3 separate regions of the Homo sapiens genome follow, and regions 2 and 3 are each linked to region 1. Evidence: fine-mapped expression QTL. A gene starts in region 1. Each other region holds a variant in brackets. All regions are shown on one strand. Distances are from middle to middle.

What was found. PIP is the estimated chance that this variant, and not a neighbour inherited with it, causes the effect.
Region 2: its variant is fine-mapped to the expression of NMRK1 in tibial artery (GTEx, PIP above 0.99).
Region 3: its variant is fine-mapped to the expression of NMRK1 in whole blood (TOPMed, PIP above 0.99).

The regions. Positions count from the first base shown.
Region 1 is chr9:75,083,106-75,092,700 of GRCh38, forward strand. It overlaps NMRK1 (nicotinamide riboside kinase 1), which reads right to left and starts at 5,050. Exons shown (of 9, transcript NM_017881.3): 1 at 4,903-5,050; 2 at 1-45. The coding sequence starts at 10. It overlaps OSTF1 (osteoclast stimulating factor 1), which reads left to right and starts at 5,409. Exons shown (of 10, transcript NM_012383.5): 1 at 5,409-5,621. The coding sequence starts at 5,588. RefSeq lists silencers at 4,920-5,519, 5,710-5,799.
Region 2 is chr9:75,240,774-75,251,964 of GRCh38, forward strand. No RefSeq gene overlaps it. Among named protein-coding and RNA genes, the nearest start is that of OSTF1, 160 kb to the left of the region's middle. The variant C/T (reference allele first, on the strand shown) is at 4,302.
Region 3 is chr9:75,145,265-75,154,996 of GRCh38, forward strand. It overlaps OSTF1 (osteoclast stimulating factor 1), which reads left to right. Exons shown (of 10, transcript NM_012383.5): 10 at 1,419-2,001. The coding sequence ends at 1,477. It overlaps LOC105376090 (a long non-coding RNA gene), which reads left to right and starts at 9,713. Exons shown (of 2, transcript XR_001746731.3): 1 at 9,713-9,732. The variant C/T (reference allele first, on the strand shown) is at 4,656.

The DNA of each region.
Region 1 (9,595 bases):
ATGTTTTCATAATTAGCTTTGAAAATCACAGCTTCCTAATATTTCCTAAAAGTAAAAAAACAAACAAACAAATCAAATGCATTTCATTTAGATGTCTAGGGAGATAAAAGAATCCTAAATTAGGAGCACCAGCTGAGAGGGGAGGATGACAGTGACCTTTCAGCCCAGCCCCGCATTATCCACATTCCCGCCGCACTGGCTTCCCCTGCTACCACTGAGTGCCAACCACTGGGGTGTGCTCAGGACTGTCAAACAGTTCAACGTCAGGTGACCTGCCGGAGCACTCCCCCTTGAACGTCTGTTTTCTGGGCGTGGAAGAACTGCTAGGCCACAGCGTGGTATATGAAGTTTCATCCTCTCCTTAGCCAGGTTGCCTTCCACCTTCACGATTCAGTCGCCTGGGTATGACTCATTATCAGTGAGGGAGGGACCCCTGTGGGCTGGCCTCTTTCTCCCCTCATGAGACAAGGAAAAAGTCACTGCTGACCAGAGGCAAAAAGAAGCTAATGCCGTTTAAAGATACTGCCCTTATGAGACAAGAAGAAAGTTACTGCTGGCCAGAGGCAAAATGAAGCTAATGCCGTTTAAAGACACTATTTCTTCACCCAAAAGCCTAGGTCTTGGGCCTGGCTAGGTACATTTTTTTTGGAAACAGGCCAGACAGTAAATATTTGACACTATGTGGGCCAAGAGGCAAAATCTAGGTTGTTATGTATGGACTTATATAACAAGAGAAAAAACATTTTCACAATTTTTTTTGATGAAATTCAACATATAATCATAATTTTTTTAACAGGTCTACTAATGACAAGAATGAAATTCCCTTTTATTGGGCTATCATTTCTCTTAATTGGATTTCTGTTGTGCTTTCTACATGAAACTGCAAATGTTCAGGCAGAGGGCCAAGTTAAGCCACCGGCCACTGTTTTGTGGATTTTTGGTTTAGGGGATGGAGGGCAGTTTCATACATGCCTCCCTAACGTTCACTAAAGTAGTCCTTGGTTATTACAATGGGCCATTTTTCTCACTAAGTGAAAAGGTGAAGCACAGCTGGAGGGAATCTTAGAATAGTGGCTCCTGAAGGTCATCCCTGAAGGCCACTCTTCTTCCTTCCTATCTGCTCAGGGGGGTTGCCAGGGACCTAGGCCGTGTAGCCAGGGGCAAGCGGCTGCCTGCCAAGCTGGAGGCTCCCAGCAATGCTCCAGTTTCTATGATCTGTGTCCACACTCTCCCTGGGGAGGGGTTATGCAGAAAAAAGCCTGGTGGGAAGAGGGCTATTGTTGTCTGACTTCTTGGCTTATCTAAATATCCCACATTGAGTACAATTGCTTAAGACTGGGGTCCACTTCCATTAACAAGTCTATGTGAGACAAGAATCAATAATGACTGTGATAAAATAGCAGCAGGGCACTGTGGCTCATGCCTATAATCCCAGCACTTTGGGAGGCCAAGGCAGGCGGATTGCTTGAGCTCAGGAGGTTGAGACCAGCCTGGGCAACATGGCAAAACGCTACCTCTACCAAAAATACAAAAGATTATCCAGGCATGGTGGCATGCTCCTGTAGTCCCAGCTACTTCGGAGGCTGAGGTGGGAGGATTGCTTGAGCCTACAAGGTGGGGGTAGCAGTGAGTGGAGATTGAGCCGCTGCACTCCAGCCTGGGTGGCAGAGTGAGGCCCTGTCTTAAAAAATAAAATAAAATAGCAGACAAGTTGCATATTTAAGTTTCATCCAGAGTTATGTTGTTGAATACACATCTCCATCCAAATTTACAAGATGTATCGAGGGAATGACTGCATACAATGAATATTGTAAAATACATTTTTATGTTGTAATTTTTCTGCTTTTGAATTTTATTTTACCCTATTCTTATTTTTTTGGTATGTCGGTTCAATGCTGCCAATTAGCCTTTTTTTGGGAAGGGAGAGGCTGCTCTTTATCTCACTTTTGTGGTGATAAATGTTCTTTCTCTTACAAAACTATGTTGTCAGAAGATGTTAGTAGAGTGATATCCTCACTTTACCAAATAAAATAAAAATTCATAAAACCTTGTCATTCCTTGCCCCCATTATTTTTGGATAGCTCGCTGAAGCATAAATTCTCAAACTTGGAGAAGTATAGCTTTAGCGATTACTTGGTCTACCCCTTCATTTTGCATAAGTGGAAACTGGCTCAGACAATAGAGCAATTTGCCTAAGGTCACACAGACAGTAAGTGGAAAAGCCAGATATTAAACTAAACCAATTGAGCTGACTTCTTTCTATCACTCCAAGCTGCTAAAAAGCACTTTATTACTAACAGCAAAGAAAGGGTGTTAGGTATGTGCTAGCTTAATTGTCAGGCTCTGATGTATAATTGATGTCATTCTTACTGATGTATTATTGATGGGGCATCTATTTGCTGTGCACACAGAATGGAAAGGACTACTGGTCCCCGTCCTAAACTGCCACATCTGTGGTTACACGTGTGACCATTGCATCAATTACATGGCATGTAAATAACAAGTGAGCATGGTTGTGGCATGGGAAATAGGCTTGAGGGGGTTACTTGCATTCAGGAACCAGGAGTAAGATGGCATAAAAAACCTACTTATAAAATCTCTCAGATACAGTCAAATGTAAGTTTTTTTTTTTTTTTTTTTTTTTTTTTAACCAAAACAGGAACTCCCAGTTCTACATTAGTTAGCAGTCTGGGCCTGTCCAAGCCAGTGTTTGGGTAAATGCTGGGCATACCCTATCAGCTATGAGCAAGTGACAATGTGATGGGAAGGGTGGGTAACTGGAACATGCAGAGACAAGAGAGGCAACTGGGCTAAGTGACTAGGGCGGGGTGGGGGGTGGGCCTAGCAATCCCTGAAGGCATTTATTTCAAAAACAGTGTGGATGCACAGGGCAGCTTTAGGGGAGCTCCAAGTTCAGGCCTGGCACTGTCCACCTCCACATCACATTCTACTATTTCATTGCCTGTTGCCCCTATAAAAAAAATCACCAAGGCTGCAGTGAGCCATGACTGTGCCACTGCATTGCAGCCTTGGTGACACAGCGAGACCCTATCTTGAAAAAAACCAAAACAAACAGGCAAAAAACAACCCAAAAACTGCCTCCCATAAAACCAAAAACAAAACAAAAAATCAAATTTAAAAAGCTCGCAATTGAGTTGCCAGGCTTCATGAAGCAAATGCAAGCTTCGTACAAACTGTAAATCATGTGATGTGTCCAAAGAGTCATCATTTCAGGGCACGTCTATCACTAGAATCCACACCACCTTCAATCTCATGGAATATCTGTGTAGTTTATTTTCCCAGTGCGTGCAAGGCTTTCCTCAACAGCGGAGAGCTTTTGCATAGCAGGAGAACAAACTAGGATAGCCAAGAGCAAACCTGAAATGACTAATTTTATTTTTTACACTTTTTTTTAACCCTAAGTAAAATGTTGGGTTTTTTAAAATAATTCAGGTGTGTTTATTATGCTTAATTCATTTCACTACTAAACACTTGCCTTTTGGATTCTAAACTGCAGAATGGTCAGAAGTGGCATGTGCAGAATCAGCAGATTGTACGAACTCTCTAACGCAGCTCTCTAACGCAAATGATCTGAAAGACAGCTGACAAAGCTAAATGTGCTCTTCAAATGTATCTACAGGACAGTCTGATATTTTAAAAAGAGAAAAATGTTTCCAGGACTTCTTACTCTGTATTCTATCCAACAGCTATTTTGATTCTCTTCTTCCAGGAGATAGGGCAGTCTTTTCCTACTATTGTTTAAACTTTGCTCCCTTTTGGTAAACAAATCCCTCAAGGCTGGGTTTTTTTTTTTTTTTTAAGACAGAGTCTCGCTCTGTTGCCAGGCTGGAGTGCAGTGGCGCAATCTCGGCTTACTGCAACCTCCGCCTTCTGGGTTCAAGTGATTCTCCTGCCCCAGCCTCCCGAGTAGCTGGGACTACAGGCGTCTGCCACCACGCCCGGCTAATTTTTTGCAGTTTTAGTAGAGATCGGGTTTCACCAGGTTGGCCAAGATGGTCTTGATCTCTTGACCTCGTGATCCACCCGCCTTGCCCTCCCAAAGTGCTGGGATTACAGACGTGAAGGGCTGGGGTTTTTGAAAACGCAATTCATGCCCCTCCCCCATTGGTTTCATTTATGTAGGTTCTTAGGTAAACAGTTTTTTCTTTCCCCAAATATACAATTAATTTACAATATTGACTGTTATTTTGAACTTATGCCATTGGCTTCCTTGTGTGCTCCAGTTCTTTCCTCCCACCGAAGATTCAATCCGATAGATCAGGGGTAGGAAAACTTTTTCTGTAAAGTGCCAGACAGGAAATGCTTTGGGCTTTGCCAGCTGCTACTCAACCCTGCTGGGTAATGCGAAAGCGGCCACAGAAAACACAGATGCAAATGAGCGTGACCGTGTTCCAGTAAAATTTTACGGACACTGAAATCGTAATTTCATGTAATTTTCACGTGTCACAAAGTATTATATTTCTTTTTATTTCTTTTCAGTCATTAAAAAAAGTAAAAAAAAAAAAAATTCTTAGCAGGCCTTACAGTAACAGGCAGCAGGCGGGCAGTAGGTCATCACCCCAACGCTAGAGGAATGAGACCATATCGATCCGCGAGGATCAAGTCCTGATCCTGTCCCTGGCGACTTCTCCAGGCTGCGCGGTCTCTTGGAGGCAGCGTTCCCATTTTCAGGATTATTCCGGGGCGCTAGAGCACCACGCCACCATGAGTACACGTCCTCCTCGGCAGGCCACCTATCAGCTCTGTGAGGGTGGCAAGAGTCCAGGCAAGGCTTTCAGGGCGCAACCAAGTCCCGGGCTCCAGCACAGAAACCCTCTGGAAACACCTCCAGGCCCCAGCAAGGCGGCGCGGCGCGGCAGGGGCGAGCAGGTACGCACTCACCTGGCGCCAGTTCGAGTCCTCCCAAACACAGCGGCAGAGGCGACAGCCAAGCGCGCGCCTGTACCCAGTGCGCCGCTACCCGCAGCTCGCTCCCCGAGAGGCCCACAGCCCCTTTCCCCACGCTCCTCCTGGGTTAGAGGGATGCCAGGTAGGGGCGGTCACCAGAGGCCCCTTTTCTCTACTCTCGGCGCCGGGTTCCAGCCCCCGTTGGGGCGGGGCGGGGCGGGGCGGGGCTCCGGCTAGCTTGGCCTCTTCCGCGCGCCCCTGCGCAGCTCCGGCCCTTCCCTATCGGGAGCGCGCGCGGCCCGCGGCACTGCACTGGCGCACGCCCGCTTCGCCCTCGCTCGGCTCCGGCTGGTTCCGCCGCCGTGCGCGCCGCCCGCGCTCCTGCTGCGGCGAAGCTGCCAGCCCGGGAGCCAATTAGCGCTCGGCTAGGCGGGGTCCACTTCCTCGTCGGCCCGGCGCGCGCTCTGGACTGCTCCGGCGGCCGCGGGGCGGGGCGGAGCACTCGGCGGAGCCGCTCTGCCTGCGTCCGCTCTTCCCGCAGCCAAGGGTGGGCGCCGGTCCTAGGAGGCGCACGGTTGTAAGCCAGACAAAAAGAACTGGGGTGCCCGGAGTGCCAGGTGGCGGGCAAGCGGTGGGCTTTTCGGCGGGGTCTTTAGGATTTGCAGCTCCAGGAAGCGAGATGTCGAAGCCGCCACCCAAACCAGTCAAACCAGGTGAGGGAGGTAAGGTAGGCGCTTGCCAGGTCCTGCGACCGCCGCGGTGCCGGCGCCTCCTCTGCAGCTTGGCAGGGAGGACCCGGCGCGCACCCGGCCCCGAGCCTGGCTTCCGAGATCGGCCCCACCGGGATGGGCGCTCTTAGTTTTGCGTTCGCTGTTACGGAGGAGGGATCGATTTTGATAGCAAGAGGATTTCGAGGATTAATATATATATATATATTTAAAGGGGAGTAGCCCTCACTTTTGCTACGTTGTCATTCGCTGAAACTTTCAGAGGGTGTGATGGCAACGTCCCATGGAAGTTTTCCGGAAAGACAGGGCCATTGATCTCCCTTTAAAAAATGTCATGAAATGATCTTTAGCCACTTCCTCTTTTCTCAGTGTTTGTCACTGTCAAGTTAGGGTTCCTGACCGGCCAGAGCGAACGGGAAGTGCAATCCCTGCAGGGTGGGGTGGGCGAGCGAGCCTCCCTCGGGACTTAAGCGTGGAGCAGCGTTTGAAATTGACCTCGGGATCTTGGGAAGAGCGTTTAGAAAAAAACCCTATACTCGCGCTCCTGGTGGAAAGAATCTAGGATGCGGCAGTGATCTCAGCTGTTGCTATTTGGAAGTGTCATTTTATCATCTCCTTTGCCTTTGCTCTCCCAAAGACGTTGGCGTGCTAAACCTGAGAGGGCTGAGATTACTAAATTCCTCAAAGCAGTTTTCTGGGCGGATTGTCCTTGTTCATTTTTGCTCTGTTCTTAGAATATTTTCTGTGATATGCAGAAATAAGATAATTGTAAAAGAAACTGACGTATTTTAATTAAAAGTTGTAACATACTGTTCCGCTCATTCATTTGGGTAGGTAATTAGAAAGGACTGACGTATTTCAATACTTTAACAACTCTTACGTGCATTCATTTGGGTAGGTAATTAAGGGAAATACAGGAAATGGAAGATAAATGGCTCCGATGTATTCTTGGGTTTTTTCTTCCCATAGTGTAATTTCGGTATAGCGAAATGCTGAAATTTAATCCATTTACGTCAAATTTTGAAGTAACTTTCTTTGCAAGAGATGAGTTTCAGTGATTACTTTTTTCCTTGATTTTCCTAAACTCTATAGCTTTCATACTTATCTAGTTTTGTTTCTTTGCGTTCCTGCAGTTGGAGTATGAAGTCCCTTTATTTGATAATCATGTACGTACGTATGTGGAATAGTGCTTCACTGAGGACTGACATCTTGGTGGGCTGAGTGTGAAGGAAGTTGCTGAGACTGGCTCTGCCCTGGGCAAAGATGGGGCACAGCTAGAGTTGGGTTCTGCATTGCATTAGATGTGGAATCTGATGAGAAATTTCCATTTTAAGTGCATATGTATGAGGTAGCTTTCTAAACTCAGGTGCAAATCAGGACCTTAAGTATCTAACAGTGCAGAGTTGTTCTTTGATAGCTAAACAATATTTTATTTATCTTATTTTTTTCTGATCACCTGCTGCCAGTTGAAATACGTTAAAGAATGCCCTTTTTAAAAATCTCTTCATGCGTATTAAATGCTGTCTATATTGCAAATGGAGGGACATTGACAGGTGTGTGTGTGTGTGTGTGTGTGTGTGTGTGTGTGTACACAGTAATGTATACATGTGGGTTCATTCACACTTGGGGGTTTAAGGGTCATCCTGTTACTAATTGTGGATACATTCCCAGGAACCTCCTTTCTCCTTCACATCAGAAAGCTTATGGTTAAACATGACAGGTGTTTAGAGGGAACTTTGCATTTTATTTTATTTTAATTTGTTTTATCTGGTCCTTGATTCAGGATAAAGGGAATTTTGAATCAACATTAATTTACAAATGAGATCCAGACACAAAGTTACCATAGAAATGGGTTTGCCAGTTTAGTAATTTACAGTGAGAAACATTACTGCCAATCAGAGTTGAAACTTTGTGTGGGCTAGCTTAGTTGAAGAAAAAAAAAAAGCGATGGCCAGGAGCAGTGGGCCATGCCTGTAATCCTAGCACTTTATGAGGCTGAGGTGGGAGGATTGCTTGAGGCTAGGAGTTTGAGACTAGCCTGGGCAACATAGCAAGACCCCGTCTCAACAGAGTACAAAAAACAAAAACAGAAATGTCCTATCGTAGTACTGTCCCACATTTACTGTGTGTTAGGCAATGGTATAGTCACTTTACACGTGTTAACACATTTGCTGCTCTCAACAATCTTATGAGATCAGTACCATTATATTGTTCCTGTTGCACAGATGGGGAAATAAAGATGCGCAGAAATGTTATTTAACTTGTCTAAAGTCAACAGTTAGAGTGGGGGATGTAGCAGGCAGTATTAAAACCCAGGTAGTCTGGCTTTGAAGTCTGCACTTTTTTTTTTTTTTTTTTTTTTGAGACAGACTCTCGCTCTGTTGCCCAGGCTGGAGTGCAGTGGCGCGATCTCGGCTCACTGCAACCTCCGCCTCTCGGGATCAAGCAATTCTCTGCCTCAGCCTCCCGAGCAGCTGGGATTACAGGCAGCCCGCCACCATGCCCGGCTAATTTTTTTTTTGTATTTTTAGTAGAGACAGGATCCAGGCTGGTCTTGAACTCCTGACCTTGTGATCCACCCTCCTTCGCTTCCCAAAGTGTGGGATCACTGTGCCTGGCCAAAGTCTGCACTCTTAACCATTTGCTATTCTGCCTTAAGTCATAGTGCTCCATTCACACTGGCGGTCAAATGTGTATTTTAGAGCTGGTGGTCAGGAAGTCGAAAGGGAGGGGCCTCTGGTCTACAGACTTTCTTGTCACAAATGCACATAAAGGTCAGCCCCTGGTTGACAGCAAGGAGAGTGGTGTGGAGCTTTACTTTCTTGTCCTGCAGGCAAGCTGCATGGATAAAAATCTCCAAAGACAGCATGGGATTGGGGGCTTTGGGGTTGTATTTAATTTTTTGGTTTGTTTAAACCTTGCCTCATTCCAAAAGGACTTCTAAAAATACACATGATCTGAGAGAGAGGAAAAAGTAAAGATAAAGCATGGTCATCTAGAGGAAGGGAAGAATAGTAAGATGAAACAAGAGGAAAAGCTAGCTTACAGACAGACCTGCATGTGTAGTAAGGTCACTGTAGATTTGGCTCTCAGCTGCAAGCAGAGAGAAAAATCTCAAGATTCATAGTGCTCATAAAATTAAAATGTGTCACTTACTCTGAAAAGTAGTTATTTTAATGGCATTGAGATCTGAGACAGATTTTCCTGTGGGTTCTCTTAAAGTATTGGAGTGGCCTGGATATCTCTAGCAGAAATACAAGACAGAACATCCTAGCCATGTTTCTTACAGCTTCTTTCAGAGCAAGATTTGGGCAAAACAGCATGGCTCAATTCAGTAGACAATACTAAAAGGAAAGGAGCTAGGTGAGTAAGGACAAAGGACTTGCTGGAAGATATTAAAAACAAGGGACATTAAGCTATAATGCAGGCTAATAGCATCTTTCTGGCTGATCAGCACATCCCCAACAGGGGGCCGATTTGTGGAAGGAGGCTGCCCAGGGAAGTCCCGGGCAGATGCTAGTGGGAGACCCTGGCCATTTTTGTACCATCTGGAGGATAGATCAGGGTTACCTTGTTTGGGTTTTTGGCCATATCCAGAATTCATTTGCTAAACAAATGTTTCTTAATAAATGTAGCTCATATATTAGGCCCTGTGCTAGACACTGGGGTTCCCAGGAACAATAATCTATGGTGTCATTCACGAGGGTCCTGAGTCTAATGGGGAAGACGTATGTATCTACAGATATTACCTAGAGTATCCCATATTTACAAGTGGATGGCTGATCTCATTCATTTTGTTTTTTTTAAAAAAGCTTGTAAGTAAAAATATAATTTTTTTATTTTTAGAAAATTTAGAAAAAGGTAAACAATAAATATATAACTAAAATATAGGAATCATCCCTGTCATCTACTGATAATCACTATTTACATTTGGTTGAATATTCTTTCAGGTTTCTTTC
Region 2 (11,191 bases), 160 kb after region 1:
ATTATTCCACTAATCCATTCAACGGTGATGGAGCTGTATTCAGTCTTAGTAAGGGCCAATCTATTCAGCTAGCTGCGTGTCCAATGAGCCACCAGTTAAAATCCCCACAGAGGCCCTCCCAGATAATACAGGACCTTTAATTAAGTGGTGTTAACAAAGATCACACAGATTTTCCTTTGATGTTTTTATTAGCCAAATATTATAGTGATCGATGATTACCATTGTATAGAAAATATACTAATGAAGATTAAATTAAAATAGGTTTCAAGGTACCAGCATGCAGGAAATCAAGTTCTTTAGAAAAGAAAGAAAAGATGATTGATAGGTATCTGGGATTTTTGTGTTTACATGTATACCTACAGAAACCAATTTAAACAGTGTTCTTTTTGTTTTGGTCTCCTTGAAAGAGTACTATAAACTCTTCTGATCTAAGATGTATTGATATATAGAGAAGGAAGGCAAATATCTATGAAATATAGTTACAAAACAAGGGTTTGGGTTGTTGAAAGTGTTATACGTGCCATTCTATGAAATTAGAATTTTTGATCTACATGATGAGTTAGTGTTATGTGTCAGATGCTTTCTAGCAGCGGCAGCAGAAATGTTTTCTTGGGAGAAGGAATGAAAGCTTATATGGAACCCTGATATATATATATATATAAAATATGTATATAATATAAGAATATATATAATATATAAGAATATATAATATATTATAAGAATATATATAATATATAATATAAGAATATATATAATATATAACAAGAATATATATTATATAAGAATATATTATATATTATAAGAATATATAACATATTATCAGAATATATAATATATAATATAAGAATATATATAATATATAAATATATATGCTATATAAGAGAACTGATTCAGTTGAAAACAGAACTTGATCCTCCCACACCCCCACTTCATAGCTCCTTTGTCTCCACATACCATCCAAGAAGAAGCATATTTCTGGAACTCTTGAGCTCTGTACAGTTTGTAAACTGTTGCCCCATTGAGTAAATTTTAGAGAAGCATTCTCTAGTGTGAAAGTGGACCCCTTTTCCTTCCTGAAAAGACAACTGAGGCAACTTCAGTCACCCTCTTGGCCCCTGAACGTTGTTTATTCAATAGCAGTGGTAATAGCCGATATATCAGCTCAATTTTAAAACATTTCATTTGTTTAATCTTTAGCTTTGATGCTGGGGGGATCCTCAGGAAATATGTTGCTTGTTCTTTTGAAAATCCCAGTAGACAACAGGTGAAAAGTGTAAATAATGAGTCTCAGAACTTGTAATTAGCCCAATAGGGAAGAGCAGCTCAACACATCCAAAATAGAAGACACACCATAGCCGTCACCCTGTCCTGAAAGTATCTCTGCTAGGTTTCGTTTCTTTTTCTTTTCTCCTTTTCTTTTTCTCTTTTTTCCTTTTTCTTTTTCTCTCTTCTCTCTCTCTTTGTCCCTCTCTCTCCTGTCTCTCTCTCTTTCTCTCTTTCTCTTTCTCTCTCTTTATCTCTCTCTGTCTCTGTCTCTCTCTCTCTCTTTCTCTTTCTCTCTCTCTCTCTCTCAATTCCAACATCTAACAAAGTATTCCACACATAGGAGTTATTCAATAAATAGTTGAGACTCAAGAGTAATTTGTAGAATTTTTAGACTTTTGAGACAGATGCAATGAACAACTCTATTTTATATCACCATTTAGCAGAGTAGTCACATTTTGGGAATTTGTATAGAAGAAAGCACTGAAGACGTCTCATGATTCAGGCTGCAGTCTTGCCTTAGAACAAATGAGTTGGGATGACATTAAAGCCCAGAGAAGCTAAATTATTTGCCCAATTTCCTTATCTATAAAATGAGGAAGTTCAGTCTGATGATCTCAGTCCTTTCAACTAGAGCATTTCAAAAGCATCTATGATCTATGTTATTGTCAATTATACTACTGGCTATAATACATGTAGGTGAACTCAGCTGGAGAGACCAAATTGTGATTTGTACTTTCCTACTCCTCATTGTGATCATTAGATTTCCTTTCCAACCATACCAGCCTGAATTCTGTGCTGTAAACTTTCCCTTCATGTAAAAATCTTGCTCAGTTAAAAAGTGAGGCGAGGCATGGTGGCTCAGGCCTGTAATCCCAGCACTTTGGGAGGCTAAGGAGGGTGGATCACTTGAGATCAGGAGTTTGAGACCAGCCTGGCCAACACGGTGAAACCCTGTCTCTACTAAAAAAATCCAAAAAGTAGCTGGATGTGGTGGTGGGTGCCTGTAATCCCAGCTACTCAGGAGACTGAGGCACGAGAATCACTTGAACCCAGGAGGCGGAGGTTTCAGTGAGCCAGGATTGCACCATTGTACTCCAGCCTGGGTGAAAGAGGGAGACTCCATCTCAAAAAAAAAAAAAAAAAGAAAAAAAAAATTGTGAGATTTATTCTCTGGTTGCTGACCCACAGCAGATTGGAACATTTATTGTTCTGCTTTTTAGGCTTGATGATTAGCAATTGTGTTCCTGTTAAACAGCCTGTGGTTGAATTCTGCACATTGGAATGGCTTACTGACTCCTTTGCGAGTTAAGAATATATTTTTATGGCATCATTTGTATCTTCAAAAATATGTATTATGATAATAAAATGAATTATATTTGTCACTTTTTAACACCATGATTATCTCTGTAAAGTAGTTCGAATGTAGTGTTTTCATTTATAGTATCCTATCTTAGCTATAAATCACTTTTATTTTTAAATCTTCCTGACTCAGAACCCCCTGTAGTATGTTTGCATTTCTCCCCAATATTATGTCTTTCTTGTTTCATTTCTTTCTGCTTAAGTGTCACTTCTCTGTTCCATAACTTTGAAAAGGCACAGAAGTCCAACTGCATACATTTGGTGGAGAGGTTGCTGTGAATGACATGAATCTAATTGTGAAGCTTCCCTTTAGGGATTGTATTCAAACTTTAGTGTCAATAAAAGTCACCACAAATATTTGTTAAAATATTAATACATATTTTAGACCTAGTCCCCAGGGTTTCTGAATGAATAGATCTGGGATGTGTCCCAGTCTCAGAAATCTGCATTTCTATCAGCAACCTCAGTTTATTCGGATGTAAGGGAAGATCACACCTCACCATAAATGTCATTTAATGGCTCTTAGGGTGAGAATGTGACGCTGTGTGGCCAGGAACCAATACTGCATATTCCTCATATGGCTCAGTTTCCTAGCTTATCCCTGGGTGTTGAATTGCACTGTTTCTCTTAAGCTAGAATTTTGTTTGGCTTTCATGGGAAAGGCATCGCTTCAGAAAAGCACTCTTCCTTTTCTTAGGTGATTTCTATGTGTGCTAAAATTTGAGAACTACTTCTGGAAGGAAATATCACAATTAGATTCAAACCTTTAAAAAAGTTTTCTAACCAAATACCTGTACTAAAAAATAGGTACGTTTTATTAATTTATTTTCTCCTTCCAACTTTTAAGTTCAGGGGATACATGTGTATGTTTGTTACACGGGTAAATTCTGTGTCACTGGGGTTTGTTGTACAAATTATTTCATCACTCAGGTAGTGAGCATAATGCTTGATAGGTAGTGTTTTAATACTTATCTTCCTCCCATCTCTACCCTCAAGTAGGCCCTGGTCTCTTGTTGTCTTCTTTGTGTCCGTGTGCACTCAATGTTTAGCTCCCACTTATATGTGACAATATGTGGTATTTAGTTTTCTGTTCCTGCATTAATTTGTTTAGGGTAACGGCCTCTGGCTGCATCCATGTTGCTTCAAAGGACATGATTTCATTTATTTTTTTTTTTGGCTGTGTAGTATTTCATGGTGTATATATACTACATTTTCTTTATCCAGTCCACTATTGATGAGCATCTAGGTTTATTCCATGTCTTTGCTGTTGTGAATAGTGCTGCAATGAACATGCAAGTGTATGTGTCTTTGTGGTAGAATGATTCATATTCCTTTGGGTATATACCCAGTAATGGAATTGCTGGGTCAAATGATAGCTCTCTTTTAAGTTTTTTGAGAAATTACCAGACTGCTTTCCACAATGGCTGAACTAATTTACATTCCCACCAACAATATAGAAGCATTTTTTTTTCTCAGCAATCTCATCAGCATCTGTTATTTTTTGACTTTTTGATAATAGCCATTCTGACTGGTATGAGATGGTGTCTCATTGTGGTTTTGATTGCCATTTCCTTTTTTGTTTGTTTGTTTTTTTGAGATGGAGTCTCGCTCTGTTGCCCAGGCTGGAGTACAATGGTGCAATTTTGGCTCACTGCAAGCTCCGCCTCCCGGGTTCA[C/T]GCCATTCTTCTGCTTCAGCCTCCTGAGTAGCTGGGACCACAGGCGCCCGCCACCACAACTGGCTAACTTTTGTATTTTTAGCAGAGATGGGGTTTCACCGTGTTAGCCAGGATGGTCTCAATTTCCTGATCTCGTGATCCGCCCACCTCGGCTTCCCAAAGAGCTGGGATTACAGGCGTGAGCCACCACGCCCAGCCTTGATTTGCATTTCTATAATAATTAGTGATCTTGAGCATTTTTTCATATGTTTGTTGGCTACTTGTATGTTTTCTTTTGAGAAGTGTCTGTTCATAACTTTTGCCCATTTTAAAAATAGTGTTACTTGATTTTTGCATGTTGATTTAAGTTCTTTATAGATATGGATATTAGATCTTTGTTAAATGCATGATTTGTGAATGTTTTCTCCCATTCTGGATTGTCTGTTTGATAGTTTCTTTTGCTGTGCAGATGCTCTTTAGTTCAATTAGGTCCCACTTGTCTATTTTTGTTCTTGTTGCAATTTCTTCCGGAGTCTTCATCATGAAATCTTTGCCAGGGCCTATGTTCAGAATGGTATTTCCTAGGTTTTCTTCTAGAGTTTTTATAGTTTTAGATTTACAGTGAAATCTTTAGTCAATTTTGAGTTGATTTTGTATATGGTGAAAAGGGGCCCAGTTTCAATCTTCTGCATATGGCTAATGAGTTATCCAAGTACCATTTATTGAATAGGGAGTTCTTTCCCCATTGCTTGTTGTTGTTGACTTTGTTGAAGACCAGGTGGTTGTAGGTATGTGGCTTTATTTCTGGTTCTCTAATCTGTTCCATTGGTCTATGTGTCTGTTTTTTGTACTAGTACCATGTTGCCTTAGTTACTGTAGCCTAGTAATATGGTTTGAACTTGAGTAGTGTGATGCCTTCAGCTTTGTTCTTTTTGCTTAGGGTTGCTTTGGTAGTTTTTTTTAATTACTGATTCAATTTTATAACTCATTATTGATCTGTTCAGGGTTTCAGTTTCCTCCTGGTTCAATCTTGGGAGGCTGATATGGTTTAAATTTGTGTCCCTGCCCAAATCTCATGTCCAGTTGTAATCCCCAGTGGCGGGGGAGGAACCTGCTGGGAGGTGATTGGATCACGGGAAGGAACTTCCCCCTGGCTGTTTTCATAATAGTGAGCTCTCATGAGATCTAGTTGTTTAAAAGTGTGTAGCACCTCCTGCTCCACACATGTAGAATATGCCTGCTTCCTCTTTGCCTTCTGCTGCAAGTTTCCTGAGGCCTCCCTAGCCTTGTTTCCTGTACAGTCTATGGAACTGTGAGTCAATTAAAACTTTTTTTTTTTTTTCTAAATAAATTACCCAGTCTCAGGGAGGTCTTTATAGCAATGTAAGAATGGACTGATATAGAAAACTGGTACTGGGAATTGGGCATTGCGATAAAGACCTGAAAATATGGAAGTTACTTTGGAACTGGGTAACGGGCAGCGGTTAGAACAGTCTGGAGGGCTCAGAAGAAGACAGAAAGATGAGAGAAAATTTGGAACTTCCTAGAGACTTGTTATTAAATCATTGTGACCAAAATGCTGATAGTAATATGGACAATGAAGTCCAAGCTGAGGTGGTCTCAGATGGAGTTGAGGAGCTTATTGGGAACTAGAGTAAAGGTTATTGTTGCTATGCCTTTGTAAAGAGACTGGCAGCATTGTGACCCTGCTCTAAGGATCTGTGGAACTTTGAACTTGAGAGAGATGATTTAGGGTATCTGGTGGAAAAAATTTTTAAGCAGCCAAGTGTTCAAGATGTGGCCTGGCCACTTCTAACAGCATGTGGTCATATGCATGAGCAAGAGATAATCTGAAATCTGAACTTATATTTAAAAGGGAAGCAGAGCATAAAAGTTTGGAAAATTCGCAGCCTGACCATGTGGTAGAAAAGAAAAACACATTTTTCTGGGGAGGAATTCAAGTAGGCTGCAGAAACTTGCATAAGTAAAGAGGAGCCAAATGTTAATAGCCAAGACAATGGGGAAAATGCCTTGAAGGCATTTCAGAGAACTTTGTGGCAGCCCCTCCCATGACAGGCCCAGAGGCCTAGGAGGGAAGAATTGCTTCATGGGCTGGGCCCAGGACCCGGCTGTCCTGCACAACCTTGGGACACTGCTCCCTGGATCTTAGCCTCTTCAGCTCCAGCCATGGCTCAAAGGGCCCCAGATACATGTCAGGCCACTGCTCCAGAGGGTGTGGTGTTAAGTCTGCAGGTGTGTGGAGGGCAAGAGTTGAGGCTTGGGAGCCTCGGACTAAATTTTGGAGGATGTATGGATATGCCTGGATATCTAGGCAGAAGTGTGCTGCAAGGGCAGAACCCTCATGGAGAACCCTTACTAGGGCAGTGCAGAGGGGAAATGCAGAGTTGGAGGCCCGACACAGAGTCCCCATTGGGTCACTGTCTAGTGGAGCTGTGAGGAGAGGGCCACTGTCCTCCAGACCCCAGAATGGTAGATCCACCAACAACTTGTACTATGTGCCTGGAAAACCTTCAGGCACTCAATGCCAGCTTGTGAAAGCAGCCAAGGGGGCTGTACCTGGCAGAGCCACAGGGGTGGAACTTGCCAAGGCTTTGGGAGCCCACTCTTTGCATCAGTGTGGCCTGGATGTGAGATATGAAATCAGAGGAGATTATTTTAGAGCTTTAAGATTTACTGACTGCCCTGCTAGATTTCAGACTTGCATGAGGCCTGTAACCTTTTTGTTTTGGCTGATTTCTTGCTTTTGGAATAGGTATATTTACTCAATACCTGTATTCTCATTCTATCTTGGAAGTAACGAACTTGTTTTTGATTTTACAGGCTTATAGGTAGACGGGACTTGCCTTGTCTCAGTTGAGACCTCAGACTGTGGACTTTTGAATTAATGCTGAAAAGAGTTAAGACTTGGAGTGTTGAGAAGGGTTGATTGTATCTCGCAATCTAAGAAGTACATGAGATTTGAGAGGGGCCAGGGGTGGAATGATATGGTTTGGCTCTGTGTCCCTGCCCACATCTCATGTTGAATTGTAATCTCCAGTGTTGGAGGGAGGGGCCTGGTGGGAGGTAATTGGATCATGGGGGTGAATTTTTCCCTTGCTGTTCTTGTGATAGTGAGTTCTCATGAGATCTGGTTGTTTAAGTGTGGCACCTCCCTACCATTCTTCTCTTCCTCCTGCTTTGGACATGTAGAACGTTCATTCTTCCCCTTCACCTTCTGCCACAGTTGTAAGTTTCCTGAGGCCTACCCAGCCATGCTTCCTGTACAGCCTGCAGAACTATGAGTTAATTAAACCTGTTGTCTTTATAAATTACCCAGTCTTAGGTAGTTTTTTATAGAAAGGTAAAAATGGATAGAATACAGAAGTTGTATGTTTCCAGGAGTTTATCCATTTCTAGATTTTCTAATTTTTGTGCATAGAGGTGTTCATAACAGTCTCTGAGGAATTTTGGGTTTCTCTGGGATTGGTGGTAATGTCCCGTTTGTCATTTCTGATTGTGTTTATTTGGATCTTCTCTCTTTGTTATAGTCTAGCCAGAACTCTCAAACTTACTTATTCTTACAAGGAACAAATGTTTGGTTCTGTTGATCTTTGGTATGATTTTTGACATCTCAATTTCATTTAGTTTAGCTATGATTTTGTTTATTTCTTCTTCTAGCTTTGGGATCAGTTTGCTATTGTTTTTATAGATCCTCTAGGTGTGAGATTAGGTTATTAATTTGAGATCTTTCTTTTTCATGTCAACATTTAGTGCTATAAACCTTCTTCTTCTTCTTCTTTTTTTTTCTTTAGACAGAGTTTCACTCTTGTTGCCCAGGATGGAGTGCAATGGCATGATCTTGGCTCACTGCAACCTCTGCCTCCTGGGTTCAAGTGATTCTCCTACCTCAGCCTCCTGAGTAGCTGGGATTACAGGTGCCCACCACCATGCCTGACTAATTTTTGTATTTTTAGTAGAGATGGGGTTTTGCCATGTTGGCCAGGCTGGTCTCAAACTCCTGACCTCAGGTGATCCGCCTGCCTTGGCCTCCCAAAGTGCTGGGATTACAGGCATGAGCCACTGCATCTGGCCCAAACTTTTTTCTTAGAACTGCTTTAGTTGTGTCCCAGAGATTCTGGTATGTTGTATCTGTTTTCATTAGATTCAAAAAATTTATTGATTTCTGCCTTTATTTCATTGTTTACCCAAAAGTAATTCAGAAGCATATCATTTGATTTCCATGTAGTTGTATGGTTTTAAGAGGTCTTTTTGGTATTGATTTCTATTATTGTGCTGTGGTCCAAGTATATGGTTGGTATGATTTCAATTTTTCTTGAATTTATTGAGAATTGCTTTATGGCCAAACATGTGGTTGATTTTAGAGTAAATGCCATATGCAGATGAGCAGAATGTATATTCTGTTGTTGGGTGGGGTGTTCTATAGATATGTTAGGTCCGTTTGGTCATGTGTTGAGTTTAAGTCCTGAATGTCTTTGTTTAGTTGTCTGTCTCGATTGGTGTAATAATGTCCATGGGGTGTTGAAGTCTCCTACTATTATTGTGTCATTATTTACATCTCTTTGTAAGTTTCTAAGAACTTGTTTTATGAATCTGGGTGCTCAATATTGGATGGATATATATGCAGGAGCATTAAAATTTTCCTGTTTAATTGAACCCTTTATTACTACGTAATGCTCTTCTTTGTCTTTTTTGATCATTGTTGATTGTAAAGTCTCTTTTGTCTGAAATAAGAACAGCAATTCAAGCTCTTTTTTTTTGTTTGTTTGTTTGCTTGATCTTTCTCCATTCCTTTACCTTGGGTGTATGTGTGTCATTGCATGTGAGGTGGGTCACTTGAAGGCAGCATATAGTTGGGTCTTGCTCCTTTATCCAACTTGGCACTCTGTCCCTTTCAAGTGGAGTGTTTAGCCTGTTTATGTTTAAGGTTAATATTGATATGTGGGGATTTGATCCTGTCATTGTAGTGTTAACTGGTTGTTATGTAGACTTGATTGTGTAGTTTCTTTATAGTGTCAATGGTCTATATACTTAAGTGTGTTTTTGTGGTGGCCAGAATAGTCTTTTATTTCCATGTTTAACACTCAATTAAGAACCTCTTCTAAGGCAGGTGTAATGGTAATGAATTTCCTTAGAATTTGCTTGTCTGAAAAGGATTTTATTTATCCTTTACTTAAGAAGCTTAGTTTGGCTGGATATAAAATTCTTGACTGGAATTTCTTTTTTTAAGGATGCTGAATATAAGCTCCAATCTGTTCTGGCTCATAAAATTTCTGTTGAAAGGTCTGTTTGTTAGCTTGATGGTGTTTCTTTTGTAGGTGATTTGCCCCTTCTCTCTAGCTGCCTTTAATATTTTTTCTTTGGCATTGACCTTATAGAATCGGACTATGTGTCTTGGGTGTGGTCATCTTTTACGGCATCTTGCAGGATTCTATGAATTTTCTGAATTTGAATGTTTTTAGTGAGGTTAGCAACATTTTCACAGACAGTATCTTCAAATATATTTTCCAAGTTGCTTGCTTTCTGTCCTTCCCTTTCAGGGACACTCATGTTTGTAGTTTTGGCTTCTTTATATAATCCAATATTTCTCAGAAGTTTTGTTCATGCTTTAAAAAAATCTTAAAAAAATTTTTTTTCTGAGTTCATTTAAAAAACTGACCTTCAAGTTCTGAGATTGAACTTAACTTTGCCTATTCTGCTGTTAATACTTCTAATTGTATTTTGCAATTCTTGTAGTGAGTTTTTCAGCTTTATCTGATAAGTTTGCTTCTTTCTTAAAATGGCTGTTTTCTTTTTCAGGTCTTGAATCCTTTTACTGGACTCCTTAGATTCCTCAGGTTGGTTTTCAACTTTCTCCTGAATTGCAATCATAATTGCCATCTAGATTCTGATTTCTACATCTGTCATTTCCATTATTGCTGTGTGATTAAGAACCATTCCTGGGGAGGTAGTGCCAACTTTTAGAGGTAAGAAGACACTCTGCCTCTTAGAGCTGACAGAGTTCTTGCACTGGTTCTTTATCATTTTTGTGGGCTGATGTTCCTTATTCTTTGAAGTTGCTGTCCTTTGGATGGGGCTTTTTGCTTTTATATTTTTTGATGTCCTTGAGGGTTTGACTGTGGTTTAAGTTGGGTTTAATTGATTGGCTTTGTTTCTGGATGGTTTCTTGGGGTCAAGGCTTAGCTCAGCTCTCCTTGGTTGCATGCTGTAACCATGAGGGGGTGAGACCAGGTGCGCAGCTTTGTTCTCTTGCCTCTTGAATTTAATCACCTGCTGTTTGGAGGGTTCAAGGTGTTCCTGGCTTGATGGCAACAACACTCTGATGATGAAGGTTGCTAGGGAAAGCACTTCATCTGGGCAGGGCAGTAGCAGTGGGGTCTGTGTGCATGCTGTCCATGGTGGGGTAGTGGCAGCAAAGTCCTTATGCATACTGGCAAAGCAGTGGGGGAGACTGTGGGCAAGTATGTGCTAGTGGAGCCTGTCTGTAAAAGCCCTTTGATGTTAGGCAGAGTCTTCTGGTGATGGAGCTGATGGTGGTGGCCACTGGGAATTACCCCATTTGGGCATCTGAGTCTGCTGAGCAAGTGGGTTCAGCCAGGCAATCCCTGAGAGAGGCTGGCAGAAAAGGTAGTGCTGACATCAGACTGGCCCTGTGTCATGGGCAAGATAGTCCCATTATGTCTAGGTCCGGCAGTCAACAAAGGCAAGAGCCTCCTATAGGAGTATGGCAAGCCTTGGGATATGGGCATCCCTGGCTGTACTCCCCTGCAGCCATTCCTGTGCCTAACCCCCTGGGTTTATACAGGGTGAAGTCCTGTCTATGTGAACTCTCCGAGCAGCTCTCCCAGACAGCTCAAATGTCCTTGGGGGTCATGGGGTCTCCTGCAGCTAAA
Region 3 (9,732 bases), 62 kb after region 1:
TCTAGCTAGCTAGCCAGAGGTTTGATCCAATTTAGGTTCAATCTATCCATCTCTTCACCTACCTACCTATCTACCTACCTACCTAATCATGTATCTTTCTTGGTAGTAGAAGGAATAATAAATCATATAGAATATTGTGTTCTTTTATCAGGGGCACATGATACCTGGTTGTCACTCTTCCTGTGATGTGACATCCATTGATGATCGTTGCCTAGATCTGTTACTTCACTAAACGGCACAAAATGATGATATTCTAATTAAATCACTTCTTTTTGAGTTATTAGCTGGAACATTCTATTAGGAAAAGTTTTCCCTCATCAATTGTTTTGTTACGCAGAGGAACAGTTAATGTAGCAAGGGCAGGATAAATGCTTGATTTTTGACCTTTATTTAAGAGGTTTTAAAATAATAAGCTGGTCTCTGTCATCCTCCAAAGGGTGACAGATGAGTTCTTTTTGGTGTGCCTTGAAATATTTAATGTGCTTTAATCCATTCCAATTAGTAGCTTTATCAATAGCCCATCTTTGGCTAGTGGAGGCCTCTTTAAGTTGAATCTCAGACCCTTTCACGTGATGCTGTCTTTGTTAGGATGCTTGCTTTATGACATGACTAGGGTTCTAGGTCCATCCCTTACACTTCCTGCCCCATACTTGGAACCGGTCATATGTATAATAAGCTTCAGAGATGTGATACTTAGAGATCATGAAGATCTGGGTGCTGTGACATATATTTATTGAACTTCAACAATGTGCTTGTGTTTGCATTCTGTTTTTCCCACTAAAATTATACTTGGGCTAATCTGTTGCTATAGGAATTTGACTAGACAGTTGAAGGGGTGACTGTGAAAGATCAGATGTCTTCCTTTTGAGTCCTGTTCAAGTTTGCTTGAACATTTGATGGGGTCCAGCTCTATTTTAAAACTTTTCCCCCCCATTTCAGCCTTTTGCTTTATTGTCGGTGTTTTCTACATTGAAATGGAAGCTTCTTTGTTTTCATTCTTTCTTTTCCTTTTTCCCCTTCGGTAGTTAACGTCCTACCTAGTGACTTTGCCTTTAGGCAAGACCTCAGGCTGTCACTGGGAGAGGAGGTTGGAAGCTCAGTTGTCAGAGTGGAGTGCTGCTGGTGGTGTATCATGTTGGTCATGGTGCCTGTGGCTAGGCCTTTCTGTTGGAAATGGATGCATGGCACCTAGGACCAAAACTTCTGCATGACTGTGGAACGCATCATCAGCCTCTGTGGCAACAGAAACTTAATGGTTAGGCTGAAAAGCAAAAGCAGAGAAAGATCCTCAGGGAAAGTACAATCCCTGGGTCAGATGGAAGATTCTATTCTAATTTAAGAGCTTTGAAAATGAAAAAATAAAATCTGAGCAGTTTATAATTTCCCTATTTTGCTTTTTTCCCTCCTCTTTCTTTCAGATGCAGTTCGAACATTAAGCAATGCCGAGGACTATCTCGATGATGAAGACTCAGATTAATTCCTTTCTGGAGCTTTGAGATCTAAAACTTCTGTTGCTTTTGCCATTCCAAAACTTTGTCTTTGCCAGAAAAGTGTTGGTAACTATAAAGAAAATTATATATGAACACGGCAGTGTTGCACTGTGTTTGAGTAGAACGTGTAAATGAATTGTTCCCACCTTTGGTTTGCCAGTAAGTGACTGGATTCTTGGCACATTTATGTTCACCAAAGTAGAACAAGAAGATATTATTTCTATTTATCAAGCAAAAGGAATTTTAAGATTTTTTTTTTTCTTTAAAAACAAATTAGGATTTTTTTTTTTTTTTTTTTTTTAGTTAAAATGCTTTACCTCAATGGTTGAGATATTTTGAATGGATTTTTCAAGGGGGGGAAATGCTTATTATAATAATAAACCAAAATACTTAACAGAAAATTGTCAGCTATTCTGACAAAAATAAACATTTTGAGAGACTTTATTTCTTTTGTCCGTTTCTGTGGTATCACTCATTGTCGTTAAGTAAGTAAAGCTTTTTATATTTAGGTAAGAACTGATTTTATTTTTTAAATTATATTTTATATTTATTAGCACAGAAGAATAATGAGAGCCACATTTTAGTTCAACTTCTTGTGTTAGCTTTGATCAAAGTCAGGACAATAATCATTGAGAAGGTGCATGTCTAATAAAATAGGTAAATTTAATAATTGTGAGACTTCCAGTTTTTATCTCCAAGGTTGTATTTAGAGTGGAGAAACCCAACAACTCATTACAGTTTCGCTAAGATTTGAAAGGTTAAAAAAATTTATTTCCTTATGATAGATGCCATACTTTTCCATATGGAGTAGTCAGGAACCATGAAATTTTTTGCATTCAGTTTTTTTAATAACATTTGTTTTCTCACAGTATGGATCTAGTTCATAATGATTCAGATTCTTTTGCTGAAACACAATTAGCATTGCAGGGAGCCTTCTGTACTACTGACATGACACTTCATTTGGCGTTCTAATTTTGTATCACTACAGTGATGATGTAAAAATGACATGGCCATTGGAATTTGCCTAGAATCCCGGCCCTAGGTCCAAAAGTATATTTTGCAAGATGATTTCAATGCTAATTTCAAAAAACACGTTGATGAAGAGAAGGAAATGTATGAAGAAGGAAGTGGGTTAGCTCAGGAAATGAATAACTGCCTCTATAAGAGTTTATTCTGTGACTGTTTGGTTTTTCACTCTGTGGGAGCCTTGAGAAACGATACCCAGAGAAGCCCATTTGAGGTCTTTCAAACACCCTCAACTAAATTTTAGTAGAAGAGAATCTGTACCACTAGTGACAACAAAGTATGAACACAAATTCTGGCACCAACAAAAGAGGGCATTTTATTCTTAAAATAAATACGTTATTAAATTTGATTTAACCAGTTGTATTTCTTCTTAAACATAAACTTGAAGATATGAAATTCTTCCTGAAATTGTATCTATTCCTATAGATCCTTTAAGATTTTTCTTTAAAATGGGGCTTGTTTCTTAACAAAAAGCTTTTAGAGAACCCTGTAACTTTTTGTTCTTCTATACTTTGGGCTGGGGTAATTAGGATGGATTTCAACTAAAGACTCTTAATTTTTAAAACATGGGCAGAAATAATACAGCTTGTGTGGCTATAGACAATTTTTATCAAAATACCATGTACTTGCTTTAGATATATTATTTGTATATCTGAGGGAAAGAATAGTGGAGGTCTCACTATCATTGTTTTTAACATTATCAAACTTAAGAGAATTTTAGAAAGTTGGACAACTATAGTTTTTTTTTGAAGATGAGGAGAGTGCTTAGCTATGTGCATGAATTTTTGGTAAAACAGGACAACTCATTTAGTTGTGGCTGAAACTCCACTGGAAATTTTTTTGGTTTGTTTCTTGTTTATTCAGCCTGGCTAATCTGAGCTTTCTCAGAGATTGTTTAGTGCTGAACTCAGCAACAAAAATCAGTTCTAGGAATTTGCCACTGCTCTGACTGTGCAGAGGAGAGCTCTGATTATGTTTTGGAAATAACTTCAGAGGTTTTGCTGTAATCTGAGCTTGCTGACAGTCACTGTGGCCTGAACTCCTTTCTAGTGATTGCACCCTTTAAATAGGAAATGCCTTCCAGCTACTTGGGCAGTGCGATACTTGTTTAGTTGTAGGCCCAGGAGCCTCATGCAAAGAAAAATTCTTATCAGAGGTTCCCATTTCAGTTTTCTTTCTGGGCTGTTCTGTTGCACATTTTGTTGTTGTTGGGCTGACATGTATTACAGCATTTCTTTATAAGCCCCCATGGCTCCTCTTTTCAGTAGATTAATTATGTTATTACTCAAAGGGAAATGTTGAACAAAGCAATGGCGACTCCATTTTATTAATCTTAAAAAAAAAAAACTGGAAATAGGCCAGGCACGGTGGCTCACGCCTGTAATCCCAGCACTTTGGGAGGCCGAGGCGGGAGGATCACCTGAGGTCAGGAGTTTGAGACCAGCCTGGCCAACATGGTGAAACCCTGTCTCTACTAGGAAAAAAAAAAAAAAAAAAAAAAACTAGCTGGGCATGGTGGCGGGTGCCTGTAATCCCAACTACTTGGGAGGCTAAGGCAGGAGAATCGCTTGAACCCGGGAGGCGGAGGTTGCAGTGAACGAAGATTGCGCCATTGCACTCCAGCCTGGGCAATGGAGACAGACTCCATCTCAAAAAAAAAAAAAAAAAAAAAAAAAGGAAATAATGCTGAAAACGAAATTTTAGGTAATTTGCAGATAATTTTAAAGATGGAAATGTAATTTTTCCACATAAGCCTTCTTCATAAATGTTTTTTATTGTGTAGAGTTTCTGATTTACTAATTTTCTTATTGTGAGCACTATATTTATCATCTTTGTAAATGATGATTTCTTTTCTGATAGGCTGTGGAACCTAACATTTACATCTGATTATCTGCCTTCCCTATTGACTCAGACTGTGTATTTTTTGTCTTGATTTTTATATTGTAAATATGTATATTGCAGGAAAAGATTGTATAGCCAAACTTTGAAGTGTCCAATTACTAAAAGTTGAGGTTTTAGTGGGAGAAATATTGTAAAAGATTCTGGTATTCCTGTTTGCAAATATAGCTTTGGTGAACAGTTTTCTCATGTGAAGGAAAAATTGCAGACCACAAATTTGTGGCTTCTGTTTCCTTATTT[C/T]TCAATAACAAGCTTTTACATCTGCCCCTCCCTTAAAATGACATGAAATTAAATAAAACTACCATTTATGAAATGTCTACTCTTCCAGTGCCTGTGCGAGACATTTTCACAGACATGATGTCATTTGATCTTTGCAGTAACCTTAGGCGAGGAATGTTAATGCCCCAACTTTTTACAGAGACGCTGAGGTTTGAAGAAGTGAAGGAACTGGTTGAAGGTGGACACACGGGTCTGGGGAACCCACGCGCTATTGCCTGCTGCAACAGTCAGATGTCATCATTCACATTCTCTCAGAAAAATCTGCAGAAACAGGACAGCTTCTTTCCAACGGAAGCCCTTGATATAGGCATCTAACAAATTCAGCATATCTGCTAATCAATTCATAATTTATTTAAAATGACCCTAAGCGCTTCCAGAGAAATTTTCACCAAACTTTTAGTTCCCAGTAACCCTAAAGAAATATTTAATGAAGCAGGTTTTACTCCCAAGTTTCCAAAATTTCCTACTCTGTACACATTAGAGTATGAGTAAGTATAAGAGAAGGAAAGCTTAGATCAGCACCTATTCATTTTGCTTTGAGTTTACATTGCTAAGTTCAGCAGTTCTCTCAGAGAGTCTGAGAGCTCCTCACTTCTGTGTAACCATGAAAATAAATGCATCCCTTGGAAGGGTCAGGGGATGTGGTCTTACCTGAGTCTGGGAGCTCGATGTGTACATGGAGGTAAGTAACTTCACAATTCCCAGGCAGTGCTGCTGTGTCTGTCGCCAGTGGCCAGCGGCTTGGGTTTCCCAGCAGGCTCAGCCCTGTGGGCAACTGGGAGCCACAGGGAGGCCAGGTTCCTCGCGGTGCCCGGAAAAGAACACTGAGGAAATCCAAAGGTATACATTAGACAGCCTGACAGGAAGCAGGAAGGAAAGTGGAAGGAATAGACAAGGAGTGAAGAGGCTGAGCCTCAAAGGAAAAATGGTTACCTTTTCTAAATGACCCATAGTTCTGACAGAAATTAGTAGAATGCTTCGAGAAGTGGTGAGGGGTATGGGCTTTGGAATCACACTGTCTGGATTCAAGCCTGATTCTGCTGAGTGACCTGCGACAGGTTACCTAAACACCCAGATTCCCTAGCTGTGCAGTGGAGGAAGTGGTAGTATCTACTGCCTAGAGTTAGAAGGATTAAATAAAATCATATATGCAAATGACTTAGTTCCTGAAAAACTCTACTACTGAGCAGTTGCTCAGTTAATGTTGGGTATAACCATGAACAGGGAAGTCTGCATTAAAACCAGATATGTGTGTTATACAAAGGAGTGTGTCAACACGTTTTTCAGTTTCACCACCAATATTGAAGAGCAGAATTTCCTAAAATACTTTAAAAATGAGTGGAGGACAATGATGTTGCCTTCCAGTCATTTAGGTTTCTTCATATGTGGTAGTAGAGTTTTTCTTTTTCTTCTTCTTTTTTTTTTTTTTTTTTTGAGATGGAGTCTTATTCTGTTGCTAGGCTGGACTGCAGTGATGCGATCTCAGCTCACTGCAACTTCCGCCTCCCAGGTTCAAGCAATTCTCCTGCCTCAGCCTCCCGAGTAGCCAGGACTACAGGTGTGCACCATCACGCCTGGCTAAGTTTTGTATTTTTAGTAGAGACAGGGTTTCACCATGTTAGTCAGGCTGGTCTCGAACTCCTGACCTCAAGTTATCCACCCGCCTTGGCCTCCCAAAGTGCTGGGATTACAGGCGTGAGCCACTGTGCCCGGCCGAGTTTTTCAATATAAATGTACTTTATTTGAGTTACAGAGAAGAGATATATAACTGGAAAAGACCTGGTTATTACTGTTACAGTAATTCAAAGATGAAGTAGGGAGATTGTCTCTGCCACTGTTTCAGTTTTATCCTGTTGCTTTCAAGTGGTTTGATGGGCTTGATAGACCGTGGGTCTGATGTTTGATACATGATGATTTGAAATCAGAAAGGTGTTTGGTGTTACTATCCTGCTCTTACATGACTTCAAAATTCAGACAATACTATTATTCAAATGAATAGACTTTGCACCTTCATAGGTTCCCCTATAAAGTCTAAACTTCAAGAATTTAGTCTCACAGCTTCAATGACAAAAAGAGAATTGAAGACACTTTAAAGTATCATACAATCATATTAACTTTGAACAAGGTGAACAAAAAAGAACTAAATTGCATATTTTGTTATTACCCATTTCAGAAGGTGAATTCCTGAGGCCACAAGAAAATGCTTCATGCCAACAGTGAGTATGAGATGTGGATGTGATGCCTGTTTGGACACAGGTTGGCTTGAAGAGTCACACAAAGCTGGTCATTGACTGAAACTAGAAATGGCTTTGGAGAGATTCATGGCCCTGAAAGCTCTCAGAGAGGGCATGCCACCCTGACAGCAGGGTTCAGGGAAAGCTGGCATGCAGTCCTCTGTCATCCTGAGCCTGTGACATTGACCAGGTCCCTTGGTCCACATGATATGCCCAAAATTAGGATCAGGTGATACCAGCTCCTCCTTGTGTGAAGCAAGTTATCATTGCTGCATCAGTTTCTTAGAGGTCTTCGACCAGGACCTGATTTTTGAGCTTCGGGTCACAGCTTAACCCTCTGTGGTGGTTGTGTCAACTTTCCAGGGTGTGGTACGCCTCATCTGCATCAGAACGCGTGACAAACCCCTGTGCTTAATCTCAGATCTGGGGCTCAGGTGGTTGGTCTCAGGATGAAAGAGCACTTGAGGGCACAGCTGAGTATGTGAGTGTGGTCTGGTGTGGTGGAGGTGTTCACTGGATCTTTAGACCTGCTCTGGGCAATGCTGGGAGTCTTGCTCTTCTATGAGCCATTGCATTTCACAGACTGTTTATGTTTTAGCCACCATATATAGATACTGTATGACGTTTGTGAATGCCTTTCTTCTGTTTTTGAAAATGGGAAATCATGCCTTATCAGCTCTCTCTCTCCCCATTTCTCATTTTTAGTTAGCAATAGTGTCTTGTATACTGCTATGTGAATTCATTAATTATTACCACTACCACTACTATTTATTAATGTATTTATTTTCCTCTGGTGTTGAAACTGAAACTGCTACTGCTAGTTCTAACTACTAAGCAATTATTCCTTGCTAGGAAATCTCAGCAGGAAAACTATAACTGCTCATATGAGAATTGTTCTTCCATATTGTCTTTAAACAGTCCTTAGATGTCCAGTCCAGTGCCTTACACCCATCCCCTTTTTAATAGCTGGAGCCTGAGGCCTGGAAGTGACTTGCTATGAGAAACATAAGTCAGTACAAGAGCTGACCAGCAAGTGAGGAATTGGAAGCAAGGGGTCTGAGATGGTTGCCATGGGTATTTCCTTCTAGATTGTATTACTGCGTGAGACCATTTTCCCACTGTGGGCATGTTTTCCTTGAGTCAATTTTCCAGGTACTCTATATTCAGCACTCTCCTCCTTCCTTTTCTTTAATTCCATTTTAGCCACACACAGGGGAATGGAAAGGGCCTGATTAAATCAACTATTTTTTTTTTTTTAACTTTTATCTTCTGAGGCCAGGCATGGTGGCTCATGCCTGTAATCCTAGGACTTTGGGAGGCCGAGGCGGGCGGATCACCTGAGGTCGGGAGTTGGAGACCAGCCTGACCAACATGGAGAAACCCCGTCTCTACTAAAAATACAAAATTAGCCGGGCATGGTGACATATGCCTGTAATCCCAGCTACTCGGGAGGCCAAGGCAGGAGAATCGCTTGAACCCAGGAGGCGGAGGTTGTGGCGAGCCATGATCGCGCTGTTGCACTCCAGCCTGGGCAACAAGAGCGAAACTCCATCTCAAAAAAAAAACAAAAGACAAAACAAACAAAAAAAAACCTTTTATCTTCTGATTTAATGTGGCAAATATGAGAAGAAATTGAAATGCCAACCAAAATGCCATTGTAGAGTTTATAATCCCATGTTTTTTGGCCGTCCCCTGTTACCTCTCCTAGATAAACAGGAGTTGAATGTCTTGTGTCCTGATTTTTATGGTCTCTTAGTTACTACAATAACAAGATCACTCAATCCCGTGGAGTCTGTCCTATTACAGAATATCAATGTTCACTCTGCTTTTTCTTTATTTCATCTATCAGCAGTGAATAGCACTTTCATGTTTAAGATGCTTCCTTTTAAAGTTGGAGAATAAGAATAAATGTATTGGACGGCTTTGTTTAGTAGCAGCATTGTCCTTTAGATCCACTGAGGAATCTTAAGAATGAAATCATCATAAATAGGCAAATAGGTAATGTTTCAGTAAATACTTGTGGCGACTATGTTTCCTTTTTAACCAAGAGCCCAGTAAAATTTGTAATTACTTCAACTGAATGAGAACACAAGGCCATTTCATGTCCTCAATCTTTGTTGATATGCTTTGCTTATTTTAATGGCTTGCATGCATTTTTTATTGTGCTGTTGATAATAGTTTTACATAATTCATAATGATACACAATAAAAGTTTCATTGCGTTCACATTCCTTTGTGGGTCTCCTCTGTTGCATGTTGATTGTGGTTTAATACTAAAACTGTAACAATGTACATCCAGTACTGTTTCATTTTCCTTGTTACTACAAGCTATGTGATAAACTTACTTTATTCTGTATATGTCATTTTCATTTTTTTCAACATAATTTCTTTATTATGAAAGAAGCCAATACTTAAGAAATTATCATGTATTATTTTCTTATTCTTTATTTTATAAAATCTATGAAAATTCTTTCCTTATTTCCACCTCAATAAGGAGTTTTAAATTGTGATTTGAGGGATTGTTGATTGACTGATTGATTGATTGATTGATTGAGACAGAGTCTCACTCTGTTGCCCAGGCTGGAGTGCAGTGGCATGATCTCGGCTCACTGCAACCTCTGCCTCCTGGGTTCAAGCGATTCTCCTGCCTCAGCCTCCTGAGTAGCTCGGACTATGGGTGCGCACCACCACACCCAGCTAATTTTGTATATTTTTGTTTGTTTGTTTTACAGATATGGGGTTTCACCATGTTGGCCAGGCTGGTCTCGAACTTCTGAGCTCAAGAGATCTGCCAGTCTCCGCCTC